2 separate regions of the Homo sapiens genome follow, and region 2 is linked to region 1. A link means that fine-mapping ties the variant in region 1 to the expression of a gene that starts in the linked region. Tissue or cell type: whole blood. Region 1 holds a variant in brackets; the other region holds the start of a gene. All regions are shown on one strand. Distances are from middle to middle.

Evidence for each region. PIP is the estimated chance that this variant, and not a neighbour inherited with it, causes the effect.
Region 2: it holds the start of MARVELD1, and the variant in region 1 is fine-mapped to the expression of MARVELD1 in whole blood (TOPMed, PIP 0.93).

What each region holds. Positions count from the first base shown.
Region 1 is chr10:97,881,255-97,883,932 of GRCh38, reverse strand. It overlaps CRTAC1 (cartilage acidic protein 1), which reads left to right. Exons shown (of 15, transcript NM_018058.7): 13 at 1,105-1,147. Among named protein-coding and RNA genes, the nearest start is that of MIR3085, 6.7 kb to the right of the region's middle. RefSeq lists a silencer at 1,147-1,441 and an enhancer at 730-1,929. The variant GGAC/C (reference allele first, on the strand shown) is at 1,256.
Region 2 is chr10:97,712,154-97,714,831 of GRCh38, reverse strand. MARVELD1 (MARVEL domain containing 1) reads right to left here and starts at 1,102. Exons shown (of 2, transcript NM_031484.4): 1 at 1-1,102. The coding sequence starts at 955. The coding sequence ends at 434. RefSeq lists a silencer at 211-430 and an enhancer at 741-790.

The sequences.
Region 1 (2,678 bases):
GAAATCCACCAAGGCCCACCAAGGCTGTACAGCCAGTTGTGAGCAAAGTTTTAAAATGACCCCAGGTCTGTTGCTGCCCTCCTGGTTCTTTCTGAGTCTCTGACAAGACCTCCTATTGCCCTAGGGTGGGGCTCAGAGCCTGCACCAGGTTTTCTGGAGGCTCTTTGAGGAGCAGCTCTGGACCCATCTCAGCAGTGTCGTTCCAACTCTGATGGGGTTCACTTGGTGGCGATTAACAGGAACCCACTGAAACTGACACAAATGAAGGGGGCTTATAAGGAGGATCACTCATAAAACTCAGGGAAGCTCAGGATGAGTAGAAACTGGCAGCTTGATGGCCTCAGCCCTAGGAGCTCAAGGACCTTTGTCAGTGCACTGGCTTTGGGAGGAGAGGGGCCCCTCTTCCCCAACAATCCCCATCCACCCACCTCATTCATCAGTACGGTTGATTGACATTTTGTGTCATGTGTGTTACGTTTTTAGTCCCCTGCCCCACCCCAGGCTGCTGTCTCTGAGACCCCCATATGGGCATGGTAGAGCCTCCACAGCCTGGCAGGGCCGGCTCCCAACTCTTAAGTCTCTGAGTCAATTTGTTCAAATTCTTGCTGCAAAGCCTTGAGTCTTCCCTCCTGCTAGGATGTCCACCCATCAGCCCTGGCCAGAGAGGTGGGACACAAGCATGGCTGCAGGCACCCACCCGTGTGAGGGAGAGGTTCTTGGAGAAGTGAATGTGGGCAGTGAGCAGACACCTCAAAAAGCATCTCCCAGCCCTCATTACACTTTGCCCTGACAGACCCAGCCTCAGTCACAGGGTGATGCTACAGAAGGGACAGGTTCTGTTAGACGTCCCAGCTCGTGTGGATCCTTTGCACAGGGAAATGAGCAAGAGTCTGAACCGTATCCATTCATGGCCTTCCCGCCAGCCTTCTGTTCTCAGCGCAAAGGAAGGGTCTTACAAGGGAGGGGGCTCCCCCCAGGCCCAGAGCTCAGAGCATGCCTCACACTGTGGTTAGGGTGACAACTACTCTGTGGCTGTGACTAGGAGGGAACCTGGGATGGGACCTTCTCAACTCACTCATGTCTCTGCTTCTGCCCACCTTACAGTGTGGCCAAGGATTCTCCCAGCAGGAAAATGGCCATTGCATGGGTGAGTTGCCTTCAGTCACCAGGGCATGGGGTAGAGGCCGGAATCTCCCTGGGGAATGCCCGCCTGACTCATGCCAAGGTCCAGGGTGCAAGCAAGGGGCAGAAAGGA[GGAC/C]AGGGGAGGGTGTTGTTTGTCCTGGGACTCCAGATGCCAAGACAACCACCACATGACTCACCAGGGTGGGAGTGATATTAGTGACCCACAGGCTGAATCACTGCGGTTCTGGAAACTGGCAGTGTTTTCCTGCCATGAGTACCGAGAAACTGCAGATGGGAAGGAGACACACCACCAACCTGGCACAGGGGGAATAGCCACATGCCATGGCCAGCAAGTCCATGTGGAGCAGCAAGCAAGGGGGCTGGCAGGCAAGGGTGTGCATTGCCAAGGGCATTGGGGCAAAATAGTGTATGGAGTGTGGTCACAGTGTGGAACGGAGACTGCAGCCTGGTGCAGTACTGGGGCAGGCAGGTAGCTGCAGCACTACCAGGATGGCAGCTCCTTGACGGTCCAAGAACCTTCTGAAAGTCCCCAAGAGCCTGGAATGGGAAGGGGCAGCCTAGAAGTTCAGTGTCCAGGAGACCTTCACCCCCAACACTTTCCATCCCAGTGACCAGCAAGGAGGGGTCAGGCCAAGGATCCCTCCTTCCTTGAACCCTCATCCAGCATTCTTCCCAAGTCTACTCTGCAGCTGCTCATTAACCCTTTGCTACTGAGATACAGGAGTAAACAAGACAGATACCACTCTCAGGAGCTGAAAACCAATGGAGAGCCACAAAAGTAAACAGCTGTCGACCACACAGTGTGATCAGGGCCCAGATGGGGGAGGGCAGGGGCTTGGAGATGACAAAGCAGGGGCCCTAAACCAGCCTAGGGAGGGTCCTAGAAGGTGCCCTAGAGAAAGTGAGGTCCAAGCTGGGCCCTGAGGAATGAGGAGCAGTTCGGCAGTCACAGAGAGGGGAGACATGGTTCTGGTGGGGGGCACTGTCTGAACAAAGGAGCACAGGTGGGGAGGTGGAGGAGCAGTGGTGCCAAGGGTGGCTGGAGGAGGAAATGACTCCCCTACACTCTCCACATGCCCACCCAGCCCCACTCCAAACACATAGTGCAGGTGCATAGAAATTCCAGAGTCTTCTCTGCCTGCAGGAAGGACCCTTTGAGATCAGCCTCCTCTTCCTTTTCATCGCCCAACAGGCAGTTATGTGCCTCGTACACAGCAAGTGTCATGCTGGGAGCTGGGGATGTAGGCCAAGTGCCACCCCCGCGCCTCCACAAGAGGGGCATCCATTCTAGTGGAGGGAGACAGACCCTGAACGCATGACCACACACCTGGACAAGATGATTTCAGAACCCTCTGAGCAAGGTGCTCCCTGGAGACTGTTCCAGAGAGAGTGGTCAGGGAGGGCCTCGGGGGGAAGACTCTGAGCTGAGACCTGAAGGATGAGAAGGATCTAGGCCCAGAAAGAGTTGAGGGAAGGGCAGGAGTGAAAAGCGGGAGACAGGACAAAGGCTTTGTGTGTTGAAGGAGCAGGAGGGA
Region 2 (2,678 bases), 170 kb after region 1:
CACGGGGCGGGAGGGAAGGGGGCAGCCAGAAGCCTGGTTCCAATTTGGGAGCCTCCCCCGGATCTGCGCGGCCCCTGTCCACGTCTTAGTCTCAGCAGGGAAGGGAAGAGGAACCGCGAGGTTTCGCCTCGGGGCGGCTCGTCTGCGAGTGTGTGTCAGCCCCTCGGATCGCAGCCTGCGCTTGTCCCGGGAGACGGCGCGTCCGGCGCGGCGGTCGGGATTCTGGGCTGGGATTCTGGGCGGCGGCGGCGCTGCCGTCGGGCGGGAGCTGAGCGTCAGGGTTCCCGGGCGCGGGCGACAGTGGAAACGCTGGAGGGCAGGGAGAGGGTGCCAGGGCGCACCCGCGCGGGGCGGCGGCGGGGGAAGGGATTAAGGAGGCTGGTCTCCGGGGATTCCCCCGCCCCGATCGGGGCCGCGGCGGGCGCGGGCGGCCTCACGCCACCTCCTGCTTGCCCTGGCAGCGACGCCCGCAGCCATAGAGCGCCGAAAGCAGGTAGAGGCCGTGGCAGACGCCGCCGCAGACGGCGGCCGCCAGGAAGGCGTGGTAGGCGCAGGGGAGCGGGTAATCCTTGAGGTTGCAGTAGCTGTGGCGCTGCATCTGGTCGCTCATGATGCCGGTGGCGGCGCCGTAGAGCGCGGCCGCCAGCACATCGTGCGCCACGTTGACCATGAGCCAGCGCGAGCCCAGCACGGGGACCAGCTCGTGCTTGCCCAGCAGCGTGAGGAAGTAGAGGCCCAGGGTGAGCAGCCAGAAGAGCACGGACACGAAGAGCGCGAAGTGCACGGGGCCCTGGTACTTGCTGGTGGCGATAGTGATCCAGAAGGCAGCGCCGGCCAGCAGCTGCAGCAGCCGCAACACGCCCAGCGGGCTGCGCAGGAAGGGCCGCTGCAGGCGCACCGCGCCGCGGGCCGCACGCGCCTGGGGCGGCGGCTGGCGCGGGGGCGGCGGGAGCATGGCCCCTGGGCGCGGTGGCGGCGGCGGCGGCGCCCCGAGCAGCGGAATGGCGGCGCCTTGCTCGCGGGGGCAGCACGGCCCAGGTGCCCGCTGCGCCCGCCGCGGCCTCCTCGCCTTGCTCCCCTCTTAGTCCTCTCTTCCTCTCCTCCTTTCCCCACCCTTCCTCTCCTCTCTCCTCCCCTCGGCCCTCCTCGCCTTCTGTCTCCAGCTCTCCACCCTTCCCACCCGCCCCTTTCCCTTCCCCTTCCCCTCGGCTGTCTCCTCCCCCGCGCGCTCCTCCCGGCTTCCTGCCATCTCTCTTTCCATCTCGCTCACCACCCTGGCGCCCCCCTTTCCCCTCTGCGCCAGGCCCCCAGCTCGGATTCCTTCGTCCTCGGGCCAGGGCAGGGCGCATCTCCCAGCCCGACGCGGGCCTTCCGCCCTGTCCGCCCGTGCGCTGCTGCGCCAAGTTTGCCACATCTGGGGCCGCCCCTGCCCGCCCTGCCTCCTCCTTTTCCCTCTTTCCTGCCATAGCGCCCACCCCGGGCCTCTGGGCTCTTCCTGGGCGCGGGAGGAGAGCAGTGCTGGTTTTGAACTGGCATCCACTGTCACCTGGACATCCGCAGTCTCCTGCCAGGGCCCGCCTCGTCCTGTCCAAAGCTGTCCGAGTTACCCATGTCGGAGTAAGAGTCCATCACCCACCAGAGGCACCGCCACTCGTTCCACTCGGCACAAGCTTATTGTCCACACCCTCTTTTATCCAACCCTTCCTTGCCATCCTTCTGTCTTGCCCACATTCAAAATACGCTACCTAACATGGCTGGGACACAAACCCAGGGCCAAGAGGAAGCAAAGCCCACGGACTTAACTACTAGGCCGAACTGCCTGTGATGGAGGCTAACGATGCTTTACATTATTATTATTCCGTGCCACCGCTTTACCTGAGTTCTCATTTAACCCTCAAAACAACCACAGAGATACACGCAACTCCCCTCATTTTGCTGAGGAGGAATGAAGCCTACCTGGGTTCAGACCAGGAAGCTGGTAACTACCACCAGTCTCTCTTCTCTCCTTCATGCTCAACCTTTGTGCCCATGGCATCTTTCTTTTTTCTTTTTCCTTTTTTTTGTGGGGGGGGGGGTGGGGGGCGGTGGGGTAGAGTACTGTTCTGTCGTCCAGGTTGGAGGGCAGTGGAGCAATCTCTGCTCACTGCAACCTCCGCCTCCCGGCCTCAAGTGATTCTCCTGCCTCGGTCTCCCAAGTAGCTGGGACTACAGTCGCGAGTGCCACCACACCCAGCTAATTTTTGTATTTTTTTTAGTAGAGACAGGGCTTTGCCATGTTGGCCAGGCTGGTCTCGAGCTCCTGACCTCAAGTGATCTGTCCCCCTTGGCTCCCAAAGTGCTGGGATTACAGGCGTGAACCACCAAGCCAGGTCATGACATCTTTCTAAAAGACAGACCTGATGTTTGTTACACTGCTTCCCCTACTGAGACAGGACAGAAGCTGTCTCTTCTGTGTGGCCTATTTCACAATTTGTCCCCAACCAATTTCCAACTTCCTGGCTTGCCACTTCCTTCCCTGTCCCATGCTGTCACCCAGCATACAACCCACTAATCCTTTCCAAATTTCCCAAGTAAGCTCAGAATGCCCTCATTCCCACACCCCACTTGACAGCAAAACTCCTATTTATCCTTCAAGGCTCAGTTTAAATGCTGCTTCCTTTTGGTCCAGCCTCTGAGGC